5 separate regions of the Homo sapiens genome follow, and regions 1, 2, 4 and 5 are each linked to region 3. The links come from fine-mapping of genetic effects on gene expression. A gene starts in region 3. Each other region holds a variant in brackets. All regions are shown on one strand. Distances are from middle to middle. Region 1 has its middle 18 kb from the start of SFTPA2. Region 2 has its middle 36 kb from the start of SFTPD. Region 3 holds the start of SFTPD (surfactant protein D). Region 4 has its middle 54 kb from the start of SFTPD. Region 5 has its middle 24 kb from the start of SFTPD.

Evidence for each region. PIP is the estimated chance that this variant, and not a neighbour inherited with it, causes the effect.
Region 1: its variant is the best candidate, but not a certain one, in a credible set for the expression of SFTPD in whole blood (TOPMed, PIP 0.71).
Region 2: its variant is the best candidate, but not a certain one, in a credible set for the expression of SFTPD in pancreas (GTEx, PIP 0.56).
Region 4: its variant is the best candidate, but not a certain one, in a credible set for the expression of SFTPD in cerebellar hemisphere (GTEx, PIP 0.66).
Region 5: its variant is the best candidate, but not a certain one, in a credible set for the expression of SFTPD in esophagus mucosa (GTEx, PIP 0.86).

Annotation. Positions count from the first base shown.
Region 1 is chr10:79,539,453-79,545,845 of GRCh38, forward strand. It overlaps the pseudogene RPS12P18. Among named protein-coding and RNA genes, the nearest start is that of SFTPA2, 18 kb to the right of the region's middle. The variant G/A (reference allele first, on the strand shown) is at 3,730.
Region 2 is chr10:79,981,796-79,988,188 of GRCh38, forward strand. It overlaps a transcript of SFTPD not described here, the pseudogene ZNRF2P3 and the pseudogene DPY19L2P5. Among named protein-coding and RNA genes, the nearest start is that of SFTPD, 36 kb to the left of the region's middle. The variant C/G (reference allele first, on the strand shown) is at 3,554.
Region 3 is chr10:79,946,261-79,952,465 of GRCh38, forward strand. SFTPD (surfactant protein D) reads right to left here and starts at 2,845. Exons shown (of 8, transcript NM_003019.5): 1 at 2,806-2,845; 2 at 201-402. The coding sequence starts at 399.
Region 4 is chr10:80,000,236-80,006,628 of GRCh38, forward strand. No RefSeq gene overlaps it. Among named protein-coding and RNA genes, the nearest start is that of SFTPD, 54 kb to the left of the region's middle. The variant G/A (reference allele first, on the strand shown) is at 2,649.
Region 5 is chr10:79,970,408-79,976,800 of GRCh38, forward strand. It overlaps a transcript of SFTPD not described here. Among named protein-coding and RNA genes, the nearest start is that of SFTPD, 24 kb to the left of the region's middle. The variant C/T (reference allele first, on the strand shown) is at 3,127.

The DNA.
Region 1 (6,393 bases), 410 kb before region 3:
TCCCACTCATGCGTCCTACATTTTTTGAGAATCTAACGAAATAAATTTCGCCAGGTGCAGTGACTCAAGCCTGTAATCCCAGCACTTTGGGAGGCCGAGGCAGGTGGGTCACCTGAGGTCAGGAGTTTGAGACTAGCCCGGCCAACATGGTGAAACCCCATCTCTACTAAAAATACAAAAATTAGCTGGGCATGGCCTGTAGTTCTAGCTACTCGGGAGCCTGAGGCAAGAGAATTGCTTGACTCTGGGAGGCGGAGGTTTCAGTGAGCCAAGATCACTCCACTGCACTCCAGCCTGGGCAACACAGTGAGACTCTGTTTCAAAATACAATACAATACAATACAATACAATACAATACAATACAATACAATACAGTACAGTACAGTACAGTACAGTACAGTACAGTACAGTACAGTACAATAAAAGCATGACATGTTAAAAAAAAAAAAAAAAAAAAAAAAGACCGGGCTTGGTGGCTCCTGCCTGTAATCCCAGCACTTTGGGAGGCCGAGGCAGGTTGGTCACCTGAGGTCAGGAGTTCAAGACCAGCCTGACCTACATGGTGAAACCTCATCTCTACTAAAAATACAAAAATTAGCTGGGTGTGGCGGCAGGAGAGCCTGCAATCCGAGCTACTCAGGAGGCTGAGGTAGGAGAATTGCTTGAACCCAGGAGGCGGAGGTTGCAGTGAGCTGAGATGGTGCCACTGTACTTCAGCCTGGGTGACAAGAGCGAAACTCCATCTCAAAAATAAATAAGAAAAATAAATAAATAAATTTCATTCCTCTGCCCACTGCCAGTATCCAGTCCCGCTGATGAGGCTGGGGTGAGGTGGGGGGTAACTTTTTAGCACCTGGGCCCTTACGTCCAGCAGGGCTGTGAACAGGGACTTTTTGTGCCAGTAACAGTAGAAAATACGGCAACTGGTGTTTGCCACTATCAAAGAGGAACTTGGAGTTTTGTTGAAGGAGCAAAATTGTAACCACCCAAGGGGTTCACCTTGCCTGCTGCCTCGACAGAGCCGATTGATCAAGACAGGGGAATTGCAATAGAAGAAGAGTAATTCACGCAGAGCCGGCTGTGCGGGAGACTGGAGTTTTATTATCACTCAAATCAGTCTCCTCGAGAATTCGGGGAGCAGAATTTTTAAGCATAACTTGGTAGGGGGAAGCCAGTGAGCCAGGAGTGCTGGTTGGTCAGGGATGAAATCACAGGGAGTCGAAGCTGTCTTCTTGCGCTTCGTCAGTTCCCGGGTGGGGGCCACAAGATCAGACGAGGCAGTTTATCCATCTGTGTGGCGTCAGCTGATCCAGCAAGTGCGGGGTCTGCAACATGTCTCAAGCACTGATCTTAGAAGCAGTTTAGGGAGGGTCAGAATCTTGTAGCCTCCAGCTGCGTGACTCCTAAACCGTAATTTCTAATCCTGTGGCTAATGTTAGTCTAGTCCCCAGACAAGAAGGAGGTCTGCATTGGGAAAGGGCTGTTACCATCTTTGTTTAAACTATAACTACAAACTAAGTTTCTCCCAAAGTTAGTTCAGCCTACGCCCAGGAATGAACAAAGACAGCTTGGAGGTTAGAAACAAGATGGAGCTGGTTAAGTTAGCTCTCTTTCACTGTTTCAGTCATAATTTTGCAAAGGTGGTTTCAAAATGACTATCCATGAGTTTGTAAAATAACCCAGGATGCCTGTTGTTCACAGCACATAGCCTGCTGTGTGACTAAGCTGATAATCAGCTAGACTTTGGGGAGAGAAAAATGCCAAAAGAAAATGGCCTTGCCCTGCTAGAGAGTCTTCAGGTCTCCCTTTGGATGCATGAGCAATATGGAAGGGAATGGAGAAGGAGGACAAAGAAAAGTCACCCTCCATAATTGGGACAGGGTTTGGAACTCTTGCGGCCAATTCTTTCATGCTGCCTGGCCCCACCTGCCCCGGAGACTTCTGGTGCTTAACGGAGGCTTTCTTTTGGCTGCCCTGGAACTGTGAATGGGCCTGCCTTGGATAATTTTCCCTCCAGGCGCTCTCTACCTGGGGTCTGTGAACACCCTCGAAGTAGTATCCACCATGAATTGTATGAATAATTACACATATGTGCACACTCATGAATACATGGACCCATGCATATGTGTTCACGGCGTTCTACAATTGCCCCCATGATATCTATACCAGTTACAACTTATTACTTCTCAGCTCCATATTCACCCACTAATACCTGCTCTGTGATAATGGACAGGATTCCCATGAGCATTTCTCCTGTACACTAAGCATAACGTGAAGCTTTCTCAGCGGAGGGTGCTGAGAGAACAGTGCAGGTGAAAGGAGTTTCTCTTCCTGGGTCTGGCTGGTGTGAGGAGATCCAGTGGTACTCTGCTCCAGTCACGTGCCCAGAAGGTCCCAGGCAACTAGTCTTGTCCTGGCATGGTGATCGCCCTCTTAGTATCCTCCCAACACAGGCACCACGCGATCCATGCCTTCTGTCCGCACTGGAGACCCAATCATTCTACATGCTCATACACTCAACCCAGCAGTGTGGCTCGCATGGGCTGTGGAGGTTTGTTTCCTGCTTGTCCAATAATTGCAACCAGCTCTAGACCATGCAACCCAGCAAATCTCTCTGCCATGTAGGGGGCTGCAATGATACCTTCTCCGACAATGTCTGATCTCCAGCCTGGGGAGGGGGCCCCATTCCAAGCTTGTCCTTCTTGGGTACTCTTCTCCACCTGTAGGGAGAGTAGCCCTATAAGGTTCTCTTTATATCATATAGTTGCTCTTTTATCATAGCTGAATAATTCTTTATATTAAACTTCCATTGCATAAACCACTTGTGGTTTCTATCTCTTGATTGAAACCAGTCTGATACAGTACTTGTGGCCCCCAAAATATTGAGATCCACCATACCTAGTCCCAGGTAAAACAAAAATATAAAAACTCTCAGCTCATTGCCTAGAACATAGAACACAATCCTTTTAAGCAGCTGTTACTACCATGTGTTGGAGATGGAGGTCAGTTGCCGCATAGGGTTGGCAGCTCTGCAGAATCACCTTAGACATTCCCTCTTGCCTGTTTAGCTTGAGCTGCATTCTCTCTGGTATAGCAGTAAAATAACAAGTGGCTAAAGCTATCACTTATGGAGCACACAGTTCATCTCAAGCAGTGGGCCATGAGTTTTGTATGCACTATTTTCCCCATTTTGCAGTTGTAAAAGATGAGGATTAATGAAGTTGGAAACTTGCCGAAGTTTTCACAGTTGACCCTGGAAGAGCTGGAATTTGAACCCAGGTGTATCCAATTCCAAAAAACCGAAGTCTTCACCACCACAATACATGCCTTTGTAGCATTTATTTCTGGGTCAAGCTCTGTGCTAAATGGTTCACAGTGGTTATGTAATGTGTTTCCTGTCACAGCTGTGTTTGTAAGCAGTGTTTTGTTCCTGTTTTATAGATAAAGAGACTAAATGTCTCACCCAAGGCCTCTCAGTTAGTGAGAGGTGGAGGCAGGATTTGAAACTGGTTCCCTGACTCCAGAGCCCACACTGCTAATGTCTATTATACTGCTTCCCTGGCTCACATAATAGAAGTGAATTTTGGGGTGTGAATATACCTACCCCTGGGGACTGTGATGGGTGAAACAATGGAAAGCACATGGCATTTGATTCACATGCAGTTCCTGCTGCTCCCAACAATGCCATCCATGTGTGTTAATAAAGGATACAGAGCTGGTGAGGAGAAG[G/A]GTGTAGGTATAGGACCAGGTGTGCCATGTCATCACGCTAACGTACCTAACCCTAACCCCAGCCCTAACCCTCAGGGGCAGTGATGGCCTACAGGCACCTGCATTAGGGTGGTTTGGAGGATCCATGTTCATCGCCAACCCTCCTCTAGGGAGAGGGTTCCCTGACACTCAACATCTGGATCTGCCCATGGCAGATCGAGCCACTACGGCATCTTGCCTATACCCCAGGCTCTGATGCCACCTCACTGACTGTGCCAACCCGAGTGATTAGCCCTCTTTGTGTGGACTCATGGTTGTTCACTGGTTTGGCTCTAAGACCCTAGCTGCTGATGGGGAGAGGGATATATGACACATTGTGAGATCCAGAATATTTGCAGGTTTCTAAGAAAAAGCACAACTATTCCAGATACTGAGGACCAAAGAGCATATTCTCCTCTAGGTGTTCATAGAGAGGCTTCATAGGGAAGCCACATCCTCAACAATATCCCTGCAACAGATGGGGATCAGTGTTCAAAACCATGCTTTGTATAATGTGTATCATGTCCCTCAACCAAAGCACAAAGCATTAAAAGTCATTCTTCAAGGAGTCAGTGGGAAGCAGTCAAGCTCACAGGTTCATGGCTCTGGCTAAATTGGTAATAGATTTAAGAATATTTGTCCAGAGGATTGAATACAGCATGCACTCTGCAGGCACTTATCCATGAGTAGCATTTCTCTTAGCCAAGCTTTTGAAAAGTATAGTGTGGCTCTGAGGTTGAGATTCTACTTGGAATGCTGGAACTTTCCATTGCCAATTAAGAGACGAGCCATATACCTTAATAACAAACTGAGCCGTGGCTTGACATAGATCCTCTTATGAAAACTCATGCACCAGAAAGAACATTTCTCTCTTTCCCTGCTGCCGCCAAGCGCCAAGCCCACCTTTGTGTGCTTGCATCCAACTGTGATAAGCCTATGTATGTCAAGTTGGTGAAGGCCCATTGTGCTGAACACCAAATCAACCTAATCAAGGGTGATGACAACAAGAAACTAGGGGAATGGGAAGGCCCCTGTACAATTGACAGAGAGGGGAAACCCTGTAAAGTGGTTGGTTGCAGTTGTGCAGTAGTTAAGGACTATGGAAGGAGTCTCAGGCCAAGGATGTCATCGAACAGTACTTCAAATGCAAGAAATGAAGAACTAAATCTTTGCCTCACACATGGAAAGAAAAGAAAAAAGAAAAAGAGAGAGAGAAAGAAGGAAAGAAAGAAAAGAAAGAAAGAAAGAAGAAAGAAAGAAAGAAGAAAGAAAGAAAGAAAGAAAGAGAAAGAAAGAAGAAAGTCAACGTGTTTCTGAAGAGAAGGCCAACCCACATCCCCTCCAAAGTGCATCAAGGGAGTCCCTGCAGGCAGAGCCAAGATTCTCTTCAGGAGGAAATTTGAGAGTTCCCTAACAGGGCAATGAATGGGTAACTGATTCCCTACAATTCCACATCATAAAATGCAACGGCAATAAAAATAGCCCAGAAAAAATGTAAAGCAGGCATGTAACTATATATCTTGTTTGGCTACACATACACATAAGCATGTGCACACACACACATACCTGCGGCCCATCTAATTTTGAGCAATAAGCCCTGTTAAAACTGGTTGTGAAATGTACACCCAAAGTAACTAAATGATTTATTGTTTATCATTATTTCCTATAAATCTCCCTAAATTTGGGGGATTTCCATTAAAATGATTATTTCAGATCCAGATTTGGTAGCCCTTGTTTCTGGATGTCATTAGATAGCAGTATTCATTGTCTACTAAAACTACTCCTAGTCCATGATACCCACATCAGGTTATTTGCATCTGAGAGAATGCTTGACCTTCTGTGCTCCACTGCAGAGCAGGGTGGCGGGGCCCTACCATATGCAACAACCTGCAGGGCACAGATACTGATCCTTTGGAGCTGATGCTGGTCAGTGGCCTGCACTGTGCCTAACAGTTATGTGGGTCAGTAGGAAAGCAAACTCATGGGCTATCTCAATATGGTTTCAAGTTAAAAATAAAAGGATCCAGGGCACATCTTTGTTTTACCCACTGGAAATTACAAGCAGGATAGTTCATATTTTTCCTTATATATTGTGTCAAAGGCTGGAAGAGGATCAAGAAAAGTCACAAGCCATTTAATATGATTTTTGGCAGGTGTTGTCACAAGATTATATAAATTACAACAGATGACTATGTTCTCAGCCTGTGAGCTGTGAATATAGGTCAGGCTTGCAAATTATTAAGCAAAGCCATGCAAATGGACGTTGCTTGCACATGCTAGAATAGGACGACTAACTCATTCTGGTTTGGCAGAGATTTTTCTTATTTTAGTACTTGTCTTAATCCAATAAGTGTTGCTATAGAAGAATACCTGAGGCTGGGGAATTTATAAAGAAAAGAGGTTTATTTGGCTCACAGTTCTGCAGGCTGGGAAGTTCAAAAAGTATGGTGTTAGCATCTGCTCAGATTCTGGTGGGGGCTTTTTGTGCTATGTCATAACATGGTGGAAAATCTCAATGGTGAGTGGACACGTGGGAAGAGAAAAAACCCAAGGGGCATCCTGGCTTTACAACAACCCATTCCTGCAGGAACATTCCCACAAGAACTAAATCCAGTCTCATGAGAGAGCTGGAGTGCACCAAGTCAT
Region 2 (6,393 bases), 36 kb after region 3:
GACGCCCGGGGCGCCCAGCGCGCCCAGACCGGCAGTGGCCTTCATGGCGCACCAGAACCTAAACCAGAGGCAGCCACACGGACACCTGAGCCGCCTCTTCCTGCTAGAGCCAGCGAGGTGTGCCCGCAGCCGAGACCCCTTCCTCTCCACGTCTCCTCGTCTCCTTGTCTCCCGTGCCCGCGTCAGGCCGCCAGCCTCGCCCACCTCCCCAGGAAGAGCGCGCCGGGCGCCGACTTCCCCTGGGGCGGCGGCCCTGGACGTGCGGGGGGTCTCTCTGGGCCGGCTGCTGCGCCTTGGCCCTGCCCTCTAGCTCCCGCGCTCGCTCCCGCCCTCCTGGCTCTCCGGGCGCGCCTGGCGGGGCAGGGCGGACATGGGCACCAAGCAGAGGAGCCGCACGCGCACGTACTGGGGCTCGGATCTACCTTCCAGTAGCAACGGAGGAGCCAATGGGACCGCGGGCGGCGGCGGGGGCGCTCGGGCCACCGCGGGGCGGTTCCCGGCTCAGGTGCCCAGTGGGCACCAGCCCAGCGCCTCGGGCGGCGCTGCTGCGAAGGCCCTGGCAGCCCCGCGCAGCCGCTCCCGCGGCGGGGCCGTGGGGAGCGTGGCTTTGGGGGCCCGCGCAGCGCAGTCCTCCTTCAGCATGCCGAACAGTAGCAGCGGCCTATAGGGCTTACAGGACTCGGTGCACAGCAGCGCTGAGGAAGGTGGCGCGGCCGGTCCAGGCCGGTGGGCGGGAGCCCCGCCATGCAATGCCTGGTGATCAGCACCTTCCAGCTCACCTCTTGCCGCCCATGTTTGGAGGTGCTGAGAAACATGTCTGTTCTTCAAGAGCCAGCTAATCATTTTTACCAAGTATGATAATTAGCTGCCCTGATTCAGATACCATTTCCTTATTGTGACATAGGGGTGACTACTGTCAGAAAACCCTGAAAATGTTTTAAAACAAGAACTAATGGAGCTTGGCGATTCTTGCCACGCTTTTCCAGAGCTCGGACCTTGCTATTATTTGCTACTGGGCACCCACAAACCCTTGCTTATTAAACTGATCTCCTTCAAGACTCAAGAAAAGCGCCATGCGGCTCCCTCCTAGGGCTCTCCTGCCCTCTCCACACCAAAGCCCAGAGTGGTCTTCCTGGAGAACTGAGGCGCCTGCAGTTTGTGCACCTTTTCCTGGAGCTGCGCCAGGAAATTATGTAACAACTGGAAGCAGCCCAGAAGGGTCTTGGCAATCACGTCCAGCTGCAAGCCATTTGGAGGTCTCAGATTGCGCACCTCCTCCCGCCCCCTGGCAGGTTCCCTCTGCCTAGGGTCCAAAGCTACAGAGGCAGCCCGGACTCTTCCACCTCCTCCTCCATCTCTGGCTCCCTGGCTTGGGAGGCCCCTCAGCTTCAACTGGCTGGGGCGGGAAGATTGAAATGGCTGTGGAGCCGCTGCTTTTGAGCTTACTCCTCGTTTGCCCAACTATTTTCTCATAGTTCCTGTTCTGGTGGAGCTGGGTCAATTTCCCACGCAGCCCAGCCCAGTAGGGCGAGGTCTGGAAAGGCCTCACTGGCCTCGCAGCCTCAACTACTTGTACCGGCCACCGCAGCGGCTGCGGACCTCCCAGTCGTCATGGCGACTGTGAAATGTGGGGTGGAGGGCGTGCAGTCAAACCATTTCGCCCGGGCAGTCCCTGCATGTCCCCCAACGTGCTCTCCAGCGGCGCGCAGCACCCCAGCCTCCGCGCGTCCCCGAGCGTGCAGCCTTCCGTGAGGGCAGCCCCATGCACAGCCCCCCAAACCCTCCCCCACGCCTGCAGCCCCCCGATGTGCGCAGTCCCCAAGCCCGCACGTGCAGTTCCCACATTGCGCGCAGCTCCACCTACAGCCCCCCACACTCTCCCAGCCCCACTGGCGCAGAACCCATCACCGCTCGCCCTTCATGCGCTTCACTGGGCATGCAGCCCCGGGAGCACGCAGCTCCACGCAGCCTCTCCGCATGCTCCCCAGCGCCTGCGGCCTCCTCTTAACAACTTTTGCCAGGACCATACATACCTGCCCGTGGGCTGAGTGGATTGGCAATGACAATGGTGACAGCTGACATTTACTGAGTACATGCTGTGTTCCAGATGCTACATCTCCATTTCTTAGATGAAGAATCTAAGTCTCAGGGCCTCATCCAAAACCATACAGCTAATAAGCAGTACAGTTAGGATCTAAGCCCAGGGAATTTTACTCTAGAACTGACAGTATTAATCACAGTGCTCTCTTGGCTTATATTTCTAAGGCATATGCTGTAACCACTATATATATATATGTATATGAGATGGGGTTTCACTCTGACACCCAGGCTGGAGTGCAGTGGCGCGATCTCGGCTCACTGCAACCTTCGCCTCCCAGATTCAAGGGATTCTCCTGCCTCAGCCTCCTGAGTAGCTGGGATTACAGGCACGTGCCACCATGCCCGTATAATTTTTTGTATTTTTAGTAGAGATAGGGTTTCGCCATGTTGCCCAGGCTGGTCTCAAACTCCTGACCTCAGGTGATCCACCCGCCTCGGCCTTCCAAAGTGCTGGGATTACAGGCGTGAGCCGCTGCTCCCTGCCTATAACCATTCTTTTTTAGGGAGGTGTGGTAGATGGTGCTACCCTGGATCTGTAGTCAGGATTTGAAGAAGGGAGAAGGTATTTGCTTGTGAAGAAGGCACCATGCATTGTGCTCAGTAGTGGTGACTGGAGAGAGAGCTGGGAGGGGCACAGGCAGCAAGGTCCCTGCTTAAAGGCAGTTATCTAGTTTGGAGAAACTTAGCTGGATAGTCAGTTCTAACATGCATTTGGCAAGCACTTATCATGCACTGTAAAGAGGCAATGTGTCTAGTTTGTTAGAGGGTGGGCTCTGGAGTCAGACTCCTGGCTTTGAACCCCAACTTCCCTGCCATTTTCAAATGACACTGGAGAAGTCACAAAACCTATTTCTGTCTCAGATTCCTCCCCAGTAAGAGTGGGATGTTAATAGTACCTCCTTTGGCTTGATATGAAAATTCAATAAGTTGATATATGCAGAACATCTTAGAACAGCGACTACCTTAGAGTAAATCTTCAGTAAGTATAAACTAATTATACTATGTTTTTGGCACTGAAGCCACGTCGCAGTGAGTAAGACAGTTCCTGACCTCAAGAATCTCAGAGTCTAGTACTGGAGACAGGTAAACAAATACTTGCAAAGTGTGTGGTGTGAGAGAGGTGTGACGGGTGGGCGGGAGCCTGCAGCAGGCACGTCTGACTCATCCTAGGTGTGTATAGGGCAGAGAAGTTAGTCTAGGCTTTCTAGGGGCACTGATGTCTGGGCCAAGTCTTGCAGGGCAGGGAGCTAGTCAGGGGGAGCTGTAGTGATCCAGCTGGGGACTGAGCAGGAGGTGAAAGTGAGCAGCTCGCATCTGTAGCGTTGCCAGATTTAGCAACGGAAAGTACAGGATGCCCTATTAAATGTGAATTTCAGATAAAATAATAACTTTTAAGAATAAGTATGTGTCATGCAATGTTTTTAGTATAAGTATGTCCCAAATATTGTATAAC[C/G]ACACAAATTATTTGTTATTTATCTGAAATTCAAATTTCACTGGGCATCCTATGAAAAGTCTGGCAATTTTATCTGTCCACATTTAGGAAGGTGCAGTGTGTTTCAGAGTAGCTGGAGTGATGCAAGGAGGAAAGGCAGAGTGGGCCGGATGGGGCTGAGAGGCATGCAGGAGGCAGTTCATAAAAGACCTATTCTATGTTAAGGGATTTGGATTTTATCCTGAAATTAATGATGAGCCCTTGGAGAGCTTTAGCCACAGGGATGTGAAACTGTAGCGATATCAGTGTCAGGCATGATGAAATGAGTGTTAGTTTCTATGGCTGAATAGCAAATTACTCCAAATTTAGAGTCTTAAAACAGTAAACATTTATTATCTCACAGTTTCTGTGTCTCAGGAATTCAGAGGCAACTTAGCTGGGTGGTTCTGGCTGAGGTTTCTCATGAGGTTGTAGACAAGATGATGACCAGAGTGGCAGTTATCTAAAGGATACACTGGAGCTGGAGAATTTGCTTCTAAGGTGACTCACTCTAATGGTTGGGAAGGCACTGCTGGCTGTCAGCAGGAGAGCTCAGTTCCTTGCCACAGGGACCCACCACAAGACAACTTGAGCCTCCTCACAACATGATAGCTGCCTTAGTGATCCGAGACAGCAAAGTGACCTTAACTTTGGAAGTCATATGCCACCTTGTCATTCCCATATATCCTAGTGCTAACACAGCTCAGCCCTGCTCAGTGCAGAAGGGTCCTACACAACGATGTACATACAAGGAGGTGGGGATCATGGGTCATCTTGGAGGCTGCTTATCTGGGATGGGAGGCTTACATGGTGATGCCTGTGACCTTGGAAGTGGAGGAGAATGATGGGCGTACAGAAGAGTGGAGAAAGGCTGGGAGGAATAGAGATGTGGCAGAGGAGGGGAGGCAAAGAAAAAAGAAAGGGGGAAGGGATGTTGGAGCAGATTGTAGTCTGTCTGCAGCAAAGAGCATCACCAAAGCCATTCTAAGGGAACTAGATCCACCTCCTTCTCTCCTGGGCATGCCCCAAAGATGGTTGTGGCCTCCAGAGAGGACCCCAAAAGAAAGCACAAAAACTAGACAGTGGGAGGGCAGTACCCAAAAGCCCTGAGTTTCTGAGCAAAATATTGAAAGTTTCTATGGTGAAATAGGAAGGTAACACGCTTAGGAAGAAAAAAGTGGTAATGATTCAAGGAAACATAATCACACACAGTTTCAGTCTTAATGGACAGGGGAGGACCCATAAAAGTAATCTATCATCTATCAATTATATCAACTGTCTATCTGTGATACCCTACCCTGTTTTAACCTGAGTGACTCTCTCTTAGCTGAGAGAGCCGGACAGACTCCATTTTAGCTTCTTCACTTGCAGCCCCCTTATCCCCCCTCCCTTAGGGGAATAACTAGTGCAAGCTGACTCCAAGCACATCCAGGAATGCACTTACTGATAAGATATTGAGGCAAGCTGTACCAGCAGCTGCTGGGGATGTGCTCAGTGGATGGTACCCAAGCCCCTGCATTTATCTCTTTGTGATAGTTTAAGCCCCTGCACCTGGAACTGTTTATATTTCTGTAACTATCTCTGTAACCATTAATTTTTTTAAACTTTTTGCCTGTTCTGCTTCCGTAAAAATTGCTTCAGCTAGGCTCCCCATCCCCTATTTAGATCACAGTATAAAAAGAAATCTAGCCCCTTCTTCAGGGCCGAGAGAATTTTGAGCTCTAGCCATCTCTCGGTTGCCGGCAGTAAAAGGACACCTGAATTAAAAAAAAGAAAAAAAGAAAAAGAAACTTATGGGATACCAAGCAGATTTAACCCAAATAAGACTACCTCAAGATATTTAATAATCAGATTTCCAAATGTCAAAGATGAAGAAAGGATCCTAAAAGCAGCAAGATATAAGAAAAAGATAACATATAAAGGCGCAACACATCTGGCAGTAGATTTCTCAGTGGAAACCTTACAGGCCAAGAGAGAGTGGCATTATATATGTAAAGTGCTGGAGGAAAAACTTGTATTCTACAATATTAAATCCAGTGAAAATATCCTTCAAACATGAAGGAGAAATACTTTCCCAGACAAATAAAATCTTAGGGATTTTATCAACACCAGACTTATCCTACAGGAAATGTTAAAGGGAGTTCTTCGATCTGAAAAAAGAAAGGATGTTAACAAGCAATAAGACATCTGGCTGGGCGCAGTGGCTCACGCCTATAATCACAGCCCTTTGGGAGGCTGAGGCGGGTGGATCACAAGGTCAGGAGTTCAAGGCCAGCCGGGTGAAAGTCCGTCTCTACTAAAACTACAAAAATTAGCCAGGTGTGGTGGCAGGCAACTGTAATCCCATCTACTCATGAGGCTGAGTCAGGAGAATCACTTGAACCCAGGAGGCAAAGGTTCCAGTGAGCTGAGATCATGCCACTGCATTACAGCTTGGGTGACAGAACAAGACTCCATCTCAAAAAAAAAGAAAAGAAAAAGAATCTGAAGATACAAAACTCACTGGTAACAATAAGTACATAGATAAATATAGAATATTATAACACTGTAATTGTAGTGTGTAAAATACTAATGCCTTGAGTAGGAATACTAAAAAATGAACCTATCAAAAATAATAAGTATAACAACTTTTTAAGACACAGCAAGTATAATAAGATATAAATAGAAACTAAAAAGTTAAAAAGTGGGAGAATGAAGTTAAAGGGTAGAGTTTTATTTGTTTTCTCTTTGCTTGTTTGTTGCTTGTTTTTGCAATAAGAGGTAAGTTGTCAACAGTTTAAAACATGGGTTATAAAATGTTATTTGCAAGCCTTGTGGTAACC
Region 3 (6,205 bases):
CAGTTGGGTGCTGGAGGAGGCACATGGGGGCTCAGCACAGCCACTTGTTTGCCAGCTGGTGGAGCAGTGTGGAACTCGCCTTCTTGGGAGGAAGAAACACGTCTCCAGACTTCCATAACAAAGTACCCAGAGTTGCTGGGCTAGTTACAGTTCCAATGACCATTCCTCCCCAGCAGGATAAGCCCAGGGCCCCACCCTACCTGGGTCCCCCTTCTCGCCCCGAGGGCCCTCTCTCCCATCCCGTCCATCGCGACCAGGCAGGCCACTCTCCACTGAGCTACACATGACCAGGGTGCAAGCACTGGGCATTGTTCTGTGGGAGTAGGTCTTCATTTCTGCTTCCAGGTAGCCCAGGGGCTGTGTGAGCAGGACCAGTGCAGAGAGGAGGAAGAGCAGCATGGCCTGGAGAGGTGAACAGAAAGAGAAAAGACATGCTTATGCTTCATGGACATGGTTTAGGGCTTGGCTCAGCTTCTAGAGGTGACAAGAAGCCCCCATTCCCTCCTTCTGTCCTCTGCTATGGGGCCTAGAGCAGCAGGAATCCAAAAGCAGTTTAAGGACAAGGAGGGCACAAGGTCTGGATGGAGAGCATGAGTTACCCAGCTGGAACTCTGACATAGGTTGACAGCAGCATCCCCCATTCCCAGGTGCTCATGTCTTCCCTTCTTGTGCCTTCCCTTGGGCACTAAGTTTGGCACAGTGGCTAGGATGTAGCATTCCTCACTGGGGCCATCTGTCACATCAAGAAGGGTTCATTGAGTGCCTCTGGGCAGGACACCCCCCGCCCACTCCCTAGACCATCTCCCTGTCTGTACCACTGAGGCAACTGGCTTAGCTCAGACAAGGCAAGCCTGTTTCTTCTCTCTTGCTGCCTTGCATGGACTAGCACTGGTGCTGATAGTGCTGGTCTGAAAATGCAGCCAGAGTCCTGAGTGCTTAGTAATGTCCTTCCTGAGCGCAGGCTGGGAGTGTGGTGCACATTTGCCTGGCAATTTGCCATTCCTCGAGCAGGTGCTGTCTCTAGAGAAAAGTCCCAGAGGGAACCCAGGTGAAAGTTTTCAGAGACACTAAACTAGCAGTAGGAGAAATCCTGAGACACCTAGAGTTCTTCTAAGACCTGAGAGGGTTTGGAAAAGAAGTATGTGGAGTCTGGGCACGGTCGCTCATGCCTGTAACCCCAGCACTTTGGGAGGCCGAGGCGGGCAGATCACTTGAAGTCAGGAGTTCGAGACCAGCCTGGCCAACATGGCAAAACCCCATCTCTACTAAAAGTATAAAAAATTAGCCAGATGTGGTGGTGCGTGCTGTAATCCCAGCTACTCGGGAGGCTGAGGCAGGAGAATCTCTTGAACCCGGGAGGTGGAGGGTGCAGTGAGCCGAGATCGTGCCACTGCACTCCAGCCTGGGCAAGAGAGTGAGACTCCATCTCAGAAAAAAAAAGAAGTCTTATATGGAAAGAGGACATGCCAGGTAGGCTCAGTCAGGCAGAAAGCTAGTGTTGTGGGTAAGCAAGAGCAACTACCCAACAGGGCACCCATTTACTATCTAAGATGGTCAGGAACTGAGACCAGGATAAGAGCAGGACCTGGGACATTAACTGTTTTGGGTATCTTTTCTCTCAATGAGAAACCGTAAAGTTATGAGAGTGAAAAGAGCTGATCAGATTCGCAGAGGCTAGGAACAAAGCCAGAGGGACTTGTGCAAAGAAAGGGGTCACCAGGCCAACTGGGGTGGTGGCAAGTGGGGGGCTTCCTGCCCAGAGGAGTGCCTTCTTCTTTGACTGCTGGTGATTCTGGGCTGTGGATGACCCCTATTTCTCACTAGCCTCTTTCAATTTTGAAATCACCACTTCCTTGGGTATCCTGGTAGTCTCTAGAAACACCTGGGTGAGCTCACTGCCAGCAGCGGCTACCTTGTTACACCTGTTCTGGCAGAGGCTCAATCATGAGCAGCAAGGGCCAGACCCAGGCCAGAGCAAGGGCATTGTTCTGTGCCCCGCAGCTCCCTCACCCCTCAGGCCCTGTGTCTGATTCTGGGGAAGAATGAAAGGCAATAGGCATTCTGTCTACAGGCTCAAGATGGCACAGAAGGCACCAGCAGCCACTGTGGCTTGAAGGACACTTGGAGAGGGCAGACCCGGGTTTTCAGGCCCAGGATTCAGATGAGGCATCTTAGCTGGGGCAGCAGATGGAGTGGGCAGAGTTGTGGTCCCCCTCAACCCCTGCAGTGCCCAGTTTATGCTAAGCTTTCAGAGTACAATTTCATTGAAAAGGCCATCTCCTCTGAACATGGATTGGAAAATCAGAGACCTACTCCAGTAAGTATATTTTTTAAAGTAAAGACCTGAAGCTATGAGAAAAACAGGCTTGCCCTGCTTTTCCACAGGCTGTTGGCACCAGGATGGGTTTAGAACCCCAGCCTGTGAGTGCCTGGGTTTGTCTCTCTTCCACTGTCCTTTCTGAAGAAATCAGTGCAGAAAAGAGCCTAGAGATAAATTAGCATTGCATTTTTCCACCTGAAGCTTCCACACTGTGGCATCCCAGGTCTAGATAGTGTCACACCCACTCTTCCACCCTGTGCACCCCCAGCTCAGAAAGCAAATCCTCCCCTGGGCTGAGGCCACTGAATAAGGGGCAGAAGAGCACCATAAGACCTCCTGTGCTCCCCACCTCCTGCGCCCATGCCTCCTAGACCAGAACAGCTACACAGACCCTCCACACCAATAGGTTGAATTGCCCAGGTCGGCAGAGGGATATTTATAGGATGTGGAGAAAATAAAAAGAAGGCAAGAACAGAGACACTTACAGGTTTCTTTTTGTTAGGCCCCAGGAGCTCCAAGCAAACTAGCCTTTGCTTGGCAGGCACTCACTATTTATGCCTGCCCTGTACCCTGAGCTGCCCAGCCCCAAAAACTCCCTTCAAGAAGTGGGGCAATTTTCTTCTTTATTGACTCACTCACTCTTATCCCCACCTGCGTTCTGGAAACCTGCCACTGATATTCACAATACTATGCACATCCATCACTATAGTTTGCAGAACACTATCAGGCCTTGAACTCATCTGCACCTTTCTCACTGCAGCTCTGTGAATTAAGTGGCATCATCAGTGTCTGTATTTTATAGATGTCTAGAAATCAGGAGTCCAGAGACCAGCAGGTTGCACAATGACCTACAGCGATTGCAAAAGGAACTCACAACTGCAGATCTTAAGAGCCAAGACCTGCTGTGTCCACTTCTCCTCTTCCTTTGTCTCAACAGCACTGCCCAGATATTGGGAAAGAGCTGAGAGCTGCTTGGAATACCTGGGCAGGGGTGGGGCAGGTAGAGTGGCTGCAGAGGCAGCAGCATGTGGGGGCAGCAGCTAGGGAGCTGCCACCTGGAAAGAGTTGCTCTTTTGCATGCTGCTCTAGGCCTCAGAGAGCCCCTGCCTTGCTTGTCTTTTGTGGGATGGATTTCCCTTAGCAGACCTCTGCCTTGCCTTGTTCAGGCTTGTTCTCCCTGCCATCTTAGCTGGTGTTTGTCTTGTGCACTGTTCTTGTAACTAGTTAGGACCCCTGAGCTGATGCTACTTTTATCCAATCTTTTAGTCTGTATGTATTTTTTTTTTTTTTGAGACAGTCTCACTCTGTCACCCAGGCTAGAGTGCCATAATGCATTTATAGCTCACTGCAGCCTCAAACTCCTGGGCTCAAGTGATTGTCCTGCCTCAGCCTCTTTACAGGTGAGCATGATCACACCTGGCTAATTTCTCTTTTTAATTTTTTACAGAGATGGGGTCTCACTCTGTTGCCCACGCTGGTCTCAAACTCCTGGTCTCAAGCAATTCTCCTGCCTCAGCCTACCGAAGTTCTGAGATTACAAGTGTAAGCCATCATACCCAGCACCAATCTGTATCTTTTAAGTGGAACATTTACTCCATTTATTATCAAGGTTAATATTGATATGTGATGTTTTGTTCCTGTCATGATAATTGTTACCCAGTTGCTTTTTAGTCTCAATTATGTAATTGCTTTATATAATCTGTGAGTTTTTCACTTTAATGTGCTTTTATGATGAGGAGTATTGTCCATTCATTTCCATGTTTAGAACTTTAAGCATTTCTTGTAGTGCTGGTCTTGTGGTGACAAATTCCCTTTGCATTTGTTGTATGGGAAAAACTTTATTTCTCCTTCATTTATGCAGCTTAGTTTAGCAGGATACAAAATTCTTGGCTGGCAGGATTTTTGTTTAAGTAGATTAAACATAAGACCCCAATCTCTTCTGGCTTGTAAGGTTTCTGCTAAGAAGTCCATTGTTAGTCTGTTGGGTTTTCCTGTATAGATTAGACATTTCTCTCTTGCTGCTTTTAGGATGTTTTCCTTCACATTGACTTTGGATAGTCTGATGACGATATGCCTTTATGAGGTTTCTCTTGTAAAGCATCTTCCAGGTGTTCTCTGAGCATCTCCTATCTGGATGTCTAATTCTCTAGCAAGACCAGGGAAGTTTTCCTGAATTATTCCCTCAAATAGGTTTTCCAAGCTTTTAATTTTTTTTCTTCTCCCTCAGGAATGTCTATATATTGTATATTTGGTAACTTTATGTAATTCTATATTTTTCAAAGTCTTTGTTCATTTTTAAAAATTTATTTTTTCTGTATTTCTGTCTGACTAGGTTAATTCAAATGACTGGCCTTCAGGCTCTGAAATTATTTCTTCTGCTTGGTCTAGTCTTTTGCTAAAAGTTTCAACTATATTTTATAGTTCCTTCAATAAATTTTTATTTCTAGAAGTTCTATTTGGTTTTTGTTTTTTAATCTCTATCTCTTTTGTAAATTTTTCATTAATATCCTGAATTATTTTTCTGATTTCCTTATGTTAGTTTTCAACTTTCTCTTGTATCTCATTGAGCTTCCTTACAACTCATATCTTAAATTCTTTATTTGTTATTTCAAAATTTTTATATTGGTTAGGATCCATTGCTAGGGAGCTGGTGTGATCCTTTGGGCATGTCAAAATACTGGTTTTTCGTACTTCCAGAGTGCTTATGCTGATTTCTTCTCATCTAGAGAACCCGTTACTTCTTACTTTTGAACTTACTCTCATTTGAATGGGATTTTTTCCCCCTTTGAAGGTGTGACTGTATGTTGTGTGTGATCATTTGGCTTCAATTTTGGGTGCCTTCCGTGGGTCACAGCTCTGTATGAGTTCCTTGGTCATAGATAGCTTTTGTGTGGTGGCTTTATTATGCTGTATAGATAGCTTTTGTGTGGTGGCTTTATTATGCTGATTGTAGTAGCAATGTATTGGGCATATGAGCAGGAATACTACCTTCTGAGGGGCTGGGAATGTGGAAGTCTCTGAAAGTTTATCTCATTCCCCAGCACTATACCCTCTGTCAGCCTGTTTTTTATTTGGTTGTGCAATTCAATCTGCATCCCAATAAAAGCTGGCTGTGGCATAAGCTGATGGGTACTTGGTCTTTGTTTTCTGGGAGGGGATCTCTGTTGTCACAGGCAGTTGGCTGGTCTGTGGATGGCCTGATTCCCTGAAGGGAACACAAAGCTTTGGAGGGGGACACAAAACTGAGGGGCACTAAACGACCAAGCTCACCCTGGGAAACCCCAATTATGAGCAGAAGCAACTGCCTTGATGGGAGTGGAAATGGGAGCTCATGGTGAAAGGCACTGATGTCTCCACCAGAGTGGGAAGGAGTATACCAGCTCCACATCCTGGGAAGGCAGGAAGGCAATCCACTTTCCTAAAACACCCTTGTCCCGGAGCTTGTGACCTTCAGTTCAGATAGACATTGTCCTTCATCTCCAGGCTGCAGTGTGATGGAGGTCTGCAGAAAACACCCGTCCTGTGGCTACCACCAAAATGGCCTTGGGATAGAACCTCTTCCCTCAGCAGCTCTGATATTCATCTGCATTCTGCTATGGGAATGCTGCTGCTCCATATGGGGAGGAGGATAAACTCTGCCCTTCGTGCAAGGCTTGGCCAGCAGGCACCCCATCAATGGGAGTGCAGCTGCCCCCAGGAGCCCTCAAAAGCCATCCCCAGGTGCACTTGTGCCAGCTCCCAGTAGGGACAGCCAACGGTCTATCTGGAGCATTGAGTGAGGGGGTAGGAGAAGACTCCCTTTCCATGTTTATTCCCAGGCACCAGTGTCACCTGCCTACTGGTGCAGAACCACACTCCTCCCCTTCAGACCCCAGAACCATGCCT
Region 4 (6,393 bases), 54 kb after region 3:
CCCTCTCACCTCAAGGCATTCCAACCTCTGCCTGCAAAGCTTCCTGACCTCTCATGATCCCCATATCCCTTGAATCACTCCTTCATCCCCCTCTCAGCCTTTGCCAGGTGGCCTTTTCAGATAGGCTTACTTTCATCTACCTATTTAAAGCTGCAATTCTCCAAAAATTCCTAATCCCCCTTATTTTATTTCCTTTTTTCACAATGCTATATTTTCTCAGTAATAATTTCTATTTCACTTATGATTACTTTCTGACCCTCTCACCCCTTCCCAAACACACTAAATTGAAAGCTCCAGAGATTGTTGGATTTTGTCTATCTTGTTTACTGATATTGTCTCAGAGCCTAAAATAATGCCTTACAAAAGTAAGCACACAATGAATATTTGTTGACTGGATTAATTAGAATGAATAGGTATGGATCAGGCCCAAAGTGTCAAGCACTGACGTAAAAGCCCTGAGCAAGATAGGCATGCCCCAGAAATAGAAATAGCAAGGCAGAGACTATGAGTGGAGTAGAGCGAGTGCATGCAGGGAAGGAGGAAGCGAGGTTACAGAGTAGATGGAGGTCAAATCATGAAGGGCCATGGGGCCAAGCATGGTGGCTCATGCCTGAAATCCCAGCACCTTGGGAGGCCGAGGTGGTGGATCACCTGAGGTCGGGAGTTCAACCTCAGCCTGACTGACATGGCAAAAAGCCATCTCTACTAAAAATACAAAAATTAGCTTGGCCTACTGGCACGTGCCTGTAATCCCAGCTACTGGGGAGGCTGAGGCAGGAGAATCACTCGAACCCGGGAACAGAGTTGCAGTGAGCTGAGATAGCGTCACTGCACTCCAGCCTGGGCAACAGAGCAAGACTTCATCTCAAAAATAATAATAAAAATAAAATAAATAAATAAAAATAAAGGGCCATGAAGCCATTGTAGGGCTGACTTTTGTATGAAATGGAATCAGAGGGAAGGTCCAGAACTAGGTAAGGCAAGTGAAAACTCACCTGGAATGCAGAAAGAGACCCAGTAATGAAGATAAAAAGTATTTTAATCTAACAGTTTATAAAGAATGAAATTGACAAACTATAGCCAACACAATGGATATTTGTTGTTTATAAATAAAGTTTTATGAAAAACAGTGCCAGGATATGATTTACCAGTGAAGTGGCTTCACTTGTGCAAGTTAGAGTTAGATCCTGATATTATTTAAAACTTCGATATCTTGTTCATCGTGAATTTTTGCACAAATTTTTAGTTTTTTAAATGTTGCCATAATATATTTATTGGATTTCCAGTTTCTGATCTGGCATGTAAGATGCTTGGAGGTCATCACTCCCATCCACAAAACATAAAAAAAAAACCAGTTAAACTGAAAATCAATAACTCTTCCTAGATTTATGAGAGAAGTGAGGTCACAGGCAAACTGCTGCCCTTTAAATTGAAGACAGACAGGAAGATGCAGAGAATCAAAACAAGGAGCAGAAACTGACTAGCAGAAACCATTGGCAGAATAGGAAAAGCTGCACTGCAATCAAGAGTTGCTGGAAGCACAGTATGGCCAGGCTTGAGAGTTAAAAATGCCAGGATAGTCCAGCCTTTGTTGGCTTTAGTCCCAAGAGTCCTACCAGGTTCTCAAAGTAAAGATCAGAGAAAATTCTCCTTGTGCTTTATGTAGGATGAGAGGAAAAGTAGACATTATGAAATATGCTCAGAGCATTCTCTTCTTCTTAAGGGATGCCCTCGAAAGAACCTATTTCACCAGAGCCTTCCCAACAGGGATTTTACCAGAACCTAGCTGATGTAAGAGAAGCAAAATTGCTAACTGCAATTGGGCAAGAATATGAAAGTAAAGGTGTTATATTGGAAAGGAAAAAGTGAAAATTTTCAGATGACATGACCTCTCATAGAGAAAATCCAAAGGAATCTAAAGACTGTTATAGCAAGTAAATGAGGTTGTAGAATGCAAGATCAAAAATTTTAAAAATCAGGCCAGGTGTGGCAGCTGACTCCTGTAATCCCAGCATTTTGGGAGGCCCGGGTGGGCAGATTGCTTGAGTCCAGGAGTTTGAGACCAGCCTGGGCAACATGGTGAAACCCTGTCTCTATTTTAAAAAAAGAAATAAACAATCAGTTTTATTTCTGTATACTGGCAATGAACAATTCAAAAATGAAAATAAAATAAACCTATACACAATATCATCAAAAAGAATAAAATACTTAGAAATATATTTAACAAAAAGATTCAACATATGCACACTGAAAACTTCAAAATGTTATTAAAAGAAAATATAAAAGATCTAAATAAATGGAGAAATATCCCATGTTTATGGATTGGAAGACTTAAACTCCCAAAAAGAGATCAACTAATACTCCCAAAAGAGATCAACAGATTCAATTCACTTCCTATCAAAATTTCAACAGCCTTTTTGCAGAAATTTACAAGCTGAACCTAAGATTCATTTAGAAATGCAATGGACCCAGAATAGCCAAATTAATCTCGAAAAAGAAGTACAATATTGGAGGACTTACGCTTCCCAAATTCAAAACTTACTACAAAGATATAACAATCAAGAAAGTGTGGGCTGGGCGCATGGCTCACGCTTCTAATCCCAGCACTTTGGGAGGCCGAGGCGGGCAGATCACGAGGTCAGGAGATC[G/A]AGACCATCCTCGCTAACACAGTGAAACCCCGTCTCTACTAAAAAAAATACAAAAAATTAGCCAGGTGTGGTGGCAGGGGCCTGTAGTCCCAGGTATGCAGGAGGCTGAGGCAGGAGAATGGCTTGAACCCGGGAGGTGGAGGTTGCAGTGAGCCAAGATTGTGCCACTGCACTCCAGCTTGGGTGACACAGCGAGACTCTGTCTCAAAAAAAAAAAAAAAAAAAAAAAGAAAGAAAGAAAGAAAGTGTGGTACTGACATAAGACAAAACTTATAAATCAGCTGAATAGAATTTAGAGTCCAGAAATAAACCCATACATCTATGATCCATTGAGTTCAACACCAATGCCAAGACAAATTCAATGGGAAAAGTATAGTCTTTACAAGAAAAGGTATTAGAACAACTGGCTATCCACAAGGAAAAGAATGAAGTTGAATATCTATCTCAAGTTACATACAAAAATTAATTCAAAAGGGAAGGAAGGCCTAAGCATACAAGTCAAAACTATGAAACCATCAGAAGTAAGCTTACCTGACCTTAGATTAGGCAACAGTTTCTTAGACATGATACCTAAAGCAGAAGTAACGAAACAAAAACTAGATAAATTGGCTTCATCAGAATTAAAAACTATTGTGCATCAAAGAACACTGTCAAGAAAGTTAAAAGTCATCACATGGTACGGGAGAAAATATTGATAAATCATTTATCTGTTATGGATTTAATATGCAGAATATACAAAGAATGGTTAAAACTCAACAATGAAAACACAAACAGCGCAATTTAAAAATGGGCAAAATGACAGGCCAGACCCAGTGGCTCATGCGTGTGTAATCCCAGCATTTTGGGAGGCTGAGGTGGGTGGATCACTTGAGGTCAGGAGTTTGAGACCAGCCTGGCCAACATGGTGAAACCCTGTCTCTACTAAAAAAATACAAAAATTAGCTGGGCATGGTGGCACATGCCTGTAATCCCAGCTATTTGGGAGGCCAAGACATGAGAGTCATTTGAACCAGGAGGTGGAGGTTGCAGTGAGCCGAGTTTGTGTCACTGCACTCCAGCCTGGGCAACAGAGCGAGACTCTGTCTAAATTAATTAATTAATTAAATTAAAATGGTCAAAATGAAAATTTTTTCTGGAAATAAGAAACACAAAAGCCAATAAGCACATTAAAAGATAGTCAACATCATTAAACACTAAGAAAATGCACACCAAAACCACAAAATGAGGCCTGGCACAGTGGCTCACACTTGTATTCCTAGCCGAGGCAGGAGGATTGCTTGAGGTCAGGAGTTCAAGACTAACCTGGCTAACACAGCAAGACCCCATCTCAAAAAAAAAACAAAAAAAAAAAAACCCACAAATGACACCATGGCACCACTCACTAGAGTGACTATAAGTTTTTTTTAAAACAATGTGTTGGCAAGGATATAAAGAAACTGAAGTGCTTATACATCTCTGGTGAGAATATAGAATGGTGAAGCTGAAGGTGGAAAACAATTTTGAGTTCCTCAAAAAGGTTAAATATAAAGTTACCGTATAACCCAGCACTTCCCCTAGTAGATACATACCTAAGAAAACTAAACAAGCTGGGCATGGTGGCTCATGCCTGTAATCCCAGCACTTTGGGAGGCTGAGGCGGGCAGATCACCTGAGGTCAGGAGTTCGAGACCAGCCTGGCCAACATGGTGAAATCTCATTTCTATTAAAAATACAAAATTAGCCAGGTGTTGTGCCAGGCGCCTGTAATCCCAGCTACTCAGGAGGCTGAGGCAGGAGAATCGCTTGAACCCGGGAGGCTGAGGCTGCAATGAGCCGAGATCACATCACTGCACTCCAGCCTGGGCAAGATAGAGCAAGACTCTGTCTCAAAAAAAAAAAAAAAAAAGCAAACTGTAAACCTATGATGACACAAAAGCTTGTACACTAGTCTTCATAGTAGCATTATTCATAATAGCCAAAAGGTGAAAATAACCCAAATATTCATCAACTGAGGAATGGATGAACAAAAAGAACATTAAAAGGAATAAAGTACATTGGGGGAGGTTGACATGGGGAGGGATAGCATCAGGAGAAATACCTAATACAGATGACGGGTTGATGGGTGCAGCAAACAACCATGGCACATGTATACCTATGTAACAAACCTGCAGGTCCTGCACATGTGTCCCAGAACTTAAAGTATAATTAAAAATTTTTAAAAAGGAATAAAGTACAATACAATATGGATGACCATTGAAAATAGCAAGCTAAGTGAATGAAGCCAAAAACAAAAGGCCACATATTGTGTCATTCCATTTATATGAAATGTCCAAGGCCGGGTACAGTAGCCCATGCCTGTAATCCCCACACTTTGGGAGGTCAAGGCAGAGGGATATCTTGAGTCCAGGAGTTCGAGACCAGTCTGGGCAACATAGCAAGACCTTGTCTCTACAGAACATGAAAGAAAGCCAGGGAGGATGGCTTGAGTGCTGTTGCCAGGGAAGGAGAGGAATGTGGATGTGGAGTGGCTGCTAATAGGTACAGGATTTATTTTTGGAGTAAAGAATATGTTCTGAGTTTAGATAGTGGTAATGATTGTACAACCTTTAGAATATACTTAAAGATGTTGAATTGTATAGTAATTTAAATATATAGCATTTAAAATGGCAAATTTTATAGTATACAAATTATATCCCAATTTTTAAAAAAATGACTATGCCACTACTTACTGAATCCACAATTTCCCCTCCAGAGGCTAAAGAGTGATTTCAGTTCCAGAGGCAAAGTCCCCACATGGTCACCATGTGCTTCTTCAAAACTGACAAAAACTGGACCAGGACTGGTCTGCAAGAAGGGCAAACTTCTCCTTGACTCTTCCTTTCATGTTTCTCAGACCCGAGTTCAGAGAAAGATGGGGCAGGCTTGGGGGCCTGGGGGTCTTCCGAGAGGGTACAGAGGTCTTTCTGGAAGGGATGCAGGACGCTGGAGATCCCAAGCCTCAGAAGGAACTTTGACCTCCACCGGGTGCTCACTGTGGGACACCTTTCCGCTCCTGCTACAAAACCACTCAGTGCAGGATGAATCCTGGAGCCGCAGAATGGCTTACTGATCTGCCAGGGCCTCCCAGGAGAGTACAAATGCCTTGAACCTCCAGGTCTGGGTACGGAGCCTCTTCAAGTCTCTTCAGCCTTGAACAAAAACCCAACAGGACCCAGGACCTCACCCACCTTCTCACTCACATTCTACCATCCACATAACAAGACTTAAAGGTGTTCAATGCTGGCTGGGCATGGTGGCTCATGCCTGTAATCCCAGCACTTTGAGAGGTTGAGGTAGGCAGATCACCTGAGGTTGGGAGTTCGTGACCAGCCTGGCCAATGTAGTGAAACCCCGTCTCTACTAAAAATACAAAAATTAGCCAGGCGTGGTGGTACACGCCTGTAATCCCAGCTACTTGGGAGGCTGAGGCAGGAGAATCGCTTGAACCTGGGAGGCAGAGGTTGCAGTGAGCCTAGATAGCACCACTACACTCCAGCCTGGGCAACAAGAGCAAAACTCCATCTCAAAAAAAAAAAAAAAAAAAGGCCGGGTGAGGTGGCTCACGCCTGTAATCCCAACACTTTGGTAGGCCGAGGTAGGTGGATCATGAGATCAGGAGATCAAGACCATCCTAGCTAACACGGTGAAACCCCATCTCTACTAAAAATACAAAAAATTAGCCAGGCGTAGTGGCATGCACCTGTAGTCCCAGCTACTCGGGAGGATG
Region 5 (6,393 bases), 24 kb after region 3:
GAATAGCTCATATTTTAATAGGAACTTTATTGAATCTGTAGATCATTTTTGGTAGTATGGTCATTTTAACGGTATTAATTTTTTCAAACTGTGAACATGGGATATCTTTTCATTTTTGTGATCTCTTCAATTTCTTTCATTAATGTTTTACAGTTTGCCTTGTAGAGATCTTTTATCTCCTCATTTAAATTTATTACTATGTATTTTATTTATTTTGTAGCTATTGAAATAGGATTGCTTTTTTATTTCTTTTTCAAGTAGTTCATTGTTGGCATATGGAAATGCTGCTGATTTTTGTCTGCTAATTTTGCATCCTACAACTTTACTGAATTTATCAGTTCTAAGAGTTTTTTTGTAAATTCTTTAGGTTTTTCTATTTATAAGATCATGTCATCTGCAAACACATAAAATTTGATTTCCTTCTTTCCAATTTGGATGTCTTTTAATTATTTCTCTTACCTAATTGTTCTGCCTAGAACATCATCCAATACTGGGTTGAATTAAAGTGGTGAGAGTGGGCATCCTTGTCTTGTTCTAGTTTCTAGAGGAAAATACTTCAGCTTTTCCCTATTCAGCATAATGCTACCTGTGGGTTTGTTATATGTAGTCTTTATTGCATTCATGTATGCTTCTTTCATATCTAGTTTGTTGAAGATTTTTATCATGAAAGGATATTAAATTTTATCAAATGCTTTTTCTGTGTCTATTGAGACTGTCATTTTCTTTTTGTCCATCATTTTGTAAGTGTTATGTATCATGTTGATTGGTTTGCATATGTCAAACCATCCCTGCAATAAATCCCAATTGATTATGGTGAATGATATTTTTAATGTATTGTTGAATTCTGTTTGCTAGTATTTATTTTGAGGAATTTTGCATCTCTGTTCATCAGAAATACTGGCCTATGGTTTTCTTTTTTTGTTGTGCCCTTTTCATGTTTTGGTATGAGGGTAACGTCATCATAGAATGAGTATAAAAGAATTTCTTCCACTTCAATTTTCTGGAAAAGTTTGAGAAGAATTGGTATTAGTTCTTTCTTAAATATCTGGCATAATTCAGCAATAAAGCCATCAGGTCCTTGGCTTTTCTTTGATGGGACACTTTTTATTAGTGATTCAATCTTGTAGCTCGTAATTGGTCTGTCCAGATTTTCTACTACTTCTTGGTTCAATCTTGGTGGTTGTATGTGTCCAGAAATTTTTCCATTTCCATTAGGCTTTCCAATTTATTGGCATATAGTTGCTCATAATAGTCTTTAATGACCTCTTCTATTTCTATGGTATCAATTGTAATGTCCCTGTTCATTTGCGGGAATGCTCTTATATGTGACTTTATGCTTTTCTCTTGCTGTTTTTAGATTCCCTCTTTGTCTTTGAATTTGATAGTTTGAATATAATGAGCCTTGGAATTGACCGTTTTGGGTTGAATCTATTTGGAAATGTTTGACCTTCATGTACCTGGATGTCTATATCTCTTGCAAGACTTAAGAAGTTTTTAGCTATTATTTTGTTTAATAGGTTTTCTATGCCTTTGTTCATCTTTTTTCCTTCTGGAATCCATAGGAAGATGACCCTCCACCTCCCAAACTCCCTTTCAATGAGGATTAATTTCAGACCCTGTTTGACATGCTGCAAAGCTCACCAGGGCATCATCTTTAGGAGAAAGGTATCAGTCTTATTACACCAATTCAGGCCTCCTCTCTTGGATGCAAAGTTAGTATAATGCAAAGGATGGGGGAACAAGAAACACAATAAATTGGAGAGCAAAACTAAGGCAAGAAGAAGCCACAGGCACTTTAAAACACAAAGAGGGCTGGGCACTGTGGCTCACACCTGTAATCCCAGACCTTTGGGAGGCCAAGGCAGGCGGGTCACAAGGTCAGGAGTTCAAGACCAGCCTGACCAACATAGTGAAACCCCGTCTCTACTAAAAATACAAAAAATTAGCCAGGCATGGTGGTGGGCACCTGTAATCCCAGCTACTCAGGAGGCTGAGGCAGGAGAATCACTTGAACCCAGGAGGCGGAGGTTGCAGTGAGCAGAGATCACACCACTGCACTCCAGCCTGGGCGACAGTGTGAGACTCTGTCTCAAAACACACACACAGACACACACACACACACACACACACGGAGCATTTTGACTCAGTCCTGTGGATAGCACCTAACTTCCATCCTCACTTCATGACCTAGATAATTGTTTCTAAGCTCCATATTGCCCCTAGAGAAAGCATGGGAACCAGGCTGTGAATGATTTCCCTGAATCCTGAATAACAAAAACATTTTCATGGCAAATATGATCTCCTCTCCATGACCATCACTTCCTTGGAAGTCTGTACCACGTACAAACTGGAACCAAACCAAGGTAATGAGAAAAGGTGAAAAGGGGACTTGTCCAGACTTTTCTCCCTTTTGGCAAGTTCAAAAGTCAAACCTGAAGGCGGGCAAATGGGCAGAACATGGGAGGATGCTAGATTTTCTCATCCTGTGAATTCATGACAAGGAGTTTTTATCCTAGCTCTGAGAGTTCCAAATGGGAACTGGAAGTTACTTCACTCTCCATCTCTCAAGGATTGACTCAATGAGCTTATATCCATCCATAATACTGAGCTGTTATCATGTGTGAGTTTCCCTTTAAACATTGAAACAGAAAGAAAATGACAGTAAAAGTTACAATAGCCCCTCCATGAAATCATTAAACAAAGTCTATGAACATTAATATTCCCACTTTGTTAGCATTTTTGTTAGTATTAACATGCATATCATGAAGCTTCCCTTTTTATTATAAATAAATTGTACATCAAGTTCAAGCCTCTTGGTTGTGTTTCTTCATTTGTGTTTTTTCTTTTCTATTTTTGTAACTTCCAAGGATACATCATGGATCTTCAAGCTGTAGGGGAGTTTCCACTGGTACATTAAAAATATCTTTGAAGGCCAGGCGCAGTGGCTTACATCTGTAATCCCAGCACTTTGGGAGGCCGAGGCAGGTGAATCACAATGTCAGGAGTTCAAGACCAGCCTGGCCAACATGGTGAAACCCCATCTCTACTAAAAATACAAAAATTAGCCAGGCGCAGTGATGGGTGCCTGTAATCCCAGCTACTCAGGAGGCTTAGGCAGGAGAACTG[C/T]TTGAACCTGGGAGGGAGAATTTGCAGTGAGCCGGGATCCCGCCACTGCACTCCAGCCTAGGCGACAGAGCAAGACTCTGTCTCAAAAAAAAAAAAAAAAAAAAGTCTTAGAAAACGAAATGTTAATTTCCTTGTGTTATTTTATCAATATACCCTCTGTCCCATCTTTTTTACAATTCCATTAGTCCTTTGCATTGTCTCCTTTCATATATACATGTGAGAGCAAGGACAGGGTACCCAGCTCTAGTTCATAGCTTGCATCTACAAAGGTGCCAGTCTGGAATAACACCACAGTGTCATGCAGTGAACTTCTTGGGATGACTCTGGATGCATTATGCCAAAGGGTTTCTTTGGTTTGTGTATGCAGAGCACAAGTGCCAGAAAATTCTAAACTCATTTTTTACTGGTGGATTACTCCAAGTAGAGGATACTTTTCCACATAATGCTGATTACGTTAACTGTGAAATTAGGATCTCTGTGTGTTTCACAGACAGACAGACACACACCCACACACACACAAATAGTAGCATCACAGATTCCCCTTAAATAAGCTGAAAAATTTATTTGACAGCATTAGGACTATGCCGTTAGTTGTTTTATTCTCAATTATACCCCCAGATATTTTTTATTTTTATTTATTTATTTTTTTTCTGAGACAGAGTCTTGCGCTGTTGCCCAGGCTGCAGTGCAGTGGCACGATCTCGGCTCACTGCAAGCTCTGCCTCCTGAGTTGACGCCATTCTCCTGCCTCCGCCTCCCGAGTAGCTGGGACTACAGGCACCTGCCACCACGCCCAGCTAATTTTTTTTTGTATTTTTAGTAGAGACGGGGTTTCTCGATCTCCTGACCTCATGATCTGCCCGCCTCAGCCTCCCAAAGTTTTGGGATTACAGGTGTGAGCCACCACACCCAGCCACCCCCAGATATTTTTTATATGCCATCAGAGATGAGACAGTCTAGTATTTCTAGTCATGCCTATATTTTCAAGAGTGATGTGATCATAGTTCTCTGGTTCATTAAAAAAATCTGATATTGGCCAATTTTAAGATACATACAAAATATATCTCTATGTATATATACCTCTCCATCTATCTCTAAATGCATATAAAGTGTATCTCTCTGTGTCTATATCTACTTCAACAATCCCGTCACCTCTCCTCATCACACCCTTCTATTCTTGTTTGTATATATACAGATGTGCCTACAGCTAATGTTGAAAGAGGAGGAGTCTTTTCTTTGGCAGAAATGCCGAGACCAGCTCGGTCAGGGAGACCTCTAACCCAGCAGTGCTAGAGGAATTAAACATACACACACAGAAATATAGAGGTGTAAAGTGGGAAATCAGGGGTCTCACAGCCTTCAGAGCATTAATTAGCATTGTTTCTATAGACATTCGATTAACTAAAAGTATCCCTTATGGGAAACAAAGGGATGGGCCGAAATAAAGGGGTGGATCTGGCTACTCTGAGTAATTTAAAAGGAAAGGGCTCAAATGTAGCTATAATATTTCCCTGTTGATCTGGGGGGGTGTATTCCAACAGGGAATCACCAAGCCTCTAAATCACTCTCTCATCTAGCTTGCTGAATTCCTGCCTGACTAGAACTAAGAGCAGTCGCTCTAGGTGCTGCTCGAACAGTCACTGGGGCAACTACTTTTTGCCCAGTGTCCTCCGGAAAAGAAAGATCTGGAAGGTCATTTTCTTCAAAATAATAAGGAGGGGGTGCAGAAGGGTAGGGATGAACCTCTCCCTCCTTTGCCACTTTAGCTTCAGCTGGTAAATAAAACTGCTCTGTAACCTCTTCTGTTACTTTGTTATACTCTCCTTCCTCCTCCTCATCAGTGTGAAAAAGTTCCTAGGTGGAATGAACCAGACCCCACACTTGTCCCATTGTTACCCTGATGCTTCCAAGCTCCCCTTCTTACTCACCACGGGGATTGCTTTAAGAGTACTCAGGTGTCCTCCAGCTTAGTTCCACATTCTCCAACTGTTGCTCCGGCGACCCTTCGACCTGGATTTGAGTCCCCATGATGGACACCACTTGCTGAGACCAGCTCAGTCGGGGAGACCCTAACCCAGCGGCACTAGAGGAATTAAACCCACACACACAGAAACAGAATTGTAAAGTGGGAAATCAGGGGTCTCACAGCCTTCAGAGCTGAGAGCCCTGAACAGAGATTTAACCACGTATTTATTAACAGCAAGCCAGTCATTAGCATTGTTTGTATAGATATTCGATTAACTAAAAGTATCCTTTATGGGAAAGGAAGGCATGGGCCCAAATAAAGAGGTGGGTCTGGCTAGTCATCTGCAGCAGGAACATGCCCTTAAAGCACAGATTGCTCATGCTATTGTTTGTGGCTTAAGAATGCCTTTAAGCGGTTTTCCACCCTGGGTGGGCCAGGTGTTCCTTGCCCTCATTCCAGTAAACCCACAACCTTCCAGCGTGGGTGTTATGGTTATCATGAACATGTTACAGTGCTGCAGAGATTTTGTTTATGGCCAGTTTTGGGGCCAGTTTATGGCCAGATTTTGGGGGGCCTGTTCCCAACACAGAAGTGGTGGGCTATACCTTGTGAAACAAGAGTTCTGGATACAGTGGCCTTAAGAAAAACAAGTTTCTCTTTTGGCAAAAGAATCAAAGTGATGGCCTTTGGTTCTGAAAGGAAAGAGTGACTCCAGTAGCATGAGGACTTTAAGATTTGGGGAAACTTGAATTGCCAAAGGCAATAAATGGTGCTGAAAGCTGGAGTTCAGCTGGTTTTGTGGTCCTGGTCAGCCAGCCCAAAGAAGCCTGAGATCCAGGCTTGCACAGTGGATCCTATCCCATCACCTGACAGCCTGTGCAAAAACACATCTGCATGCTCCCAGAAGTCCCTGGCTACTGAGTCAATCATATCTACTGCTCTGGGAAACCACAGAGTTTGGGAGGGTGAGTGATAAAATGGCTGTTGAAGGAAGTCTGGTGCCAGAAGAGTGATGGCACCACCACTGCCACTGCTGCCAGAGTCCAAGTCCAGGCTGGAAAAAAAGGGCTTTTCTCAGTAAAGCCATCTGCACCTAAAGGGAAAAACCCTGAGGATTCAACAAGAGCATAATGAAGCTTTCCACCTCCCCCTTCTGAGAACTGGGGACAAGAAGTCTTCAAAACCAAGTTATGGGACTAGCAGGCCACTTCTAGTTCAAGTGGCATGGGTCATTGGGTGCTGCCTGGCAACCATCCTCTCAGAGTGGGTGATATGGTTTGGCTGTGTCCCCACCCAAATCT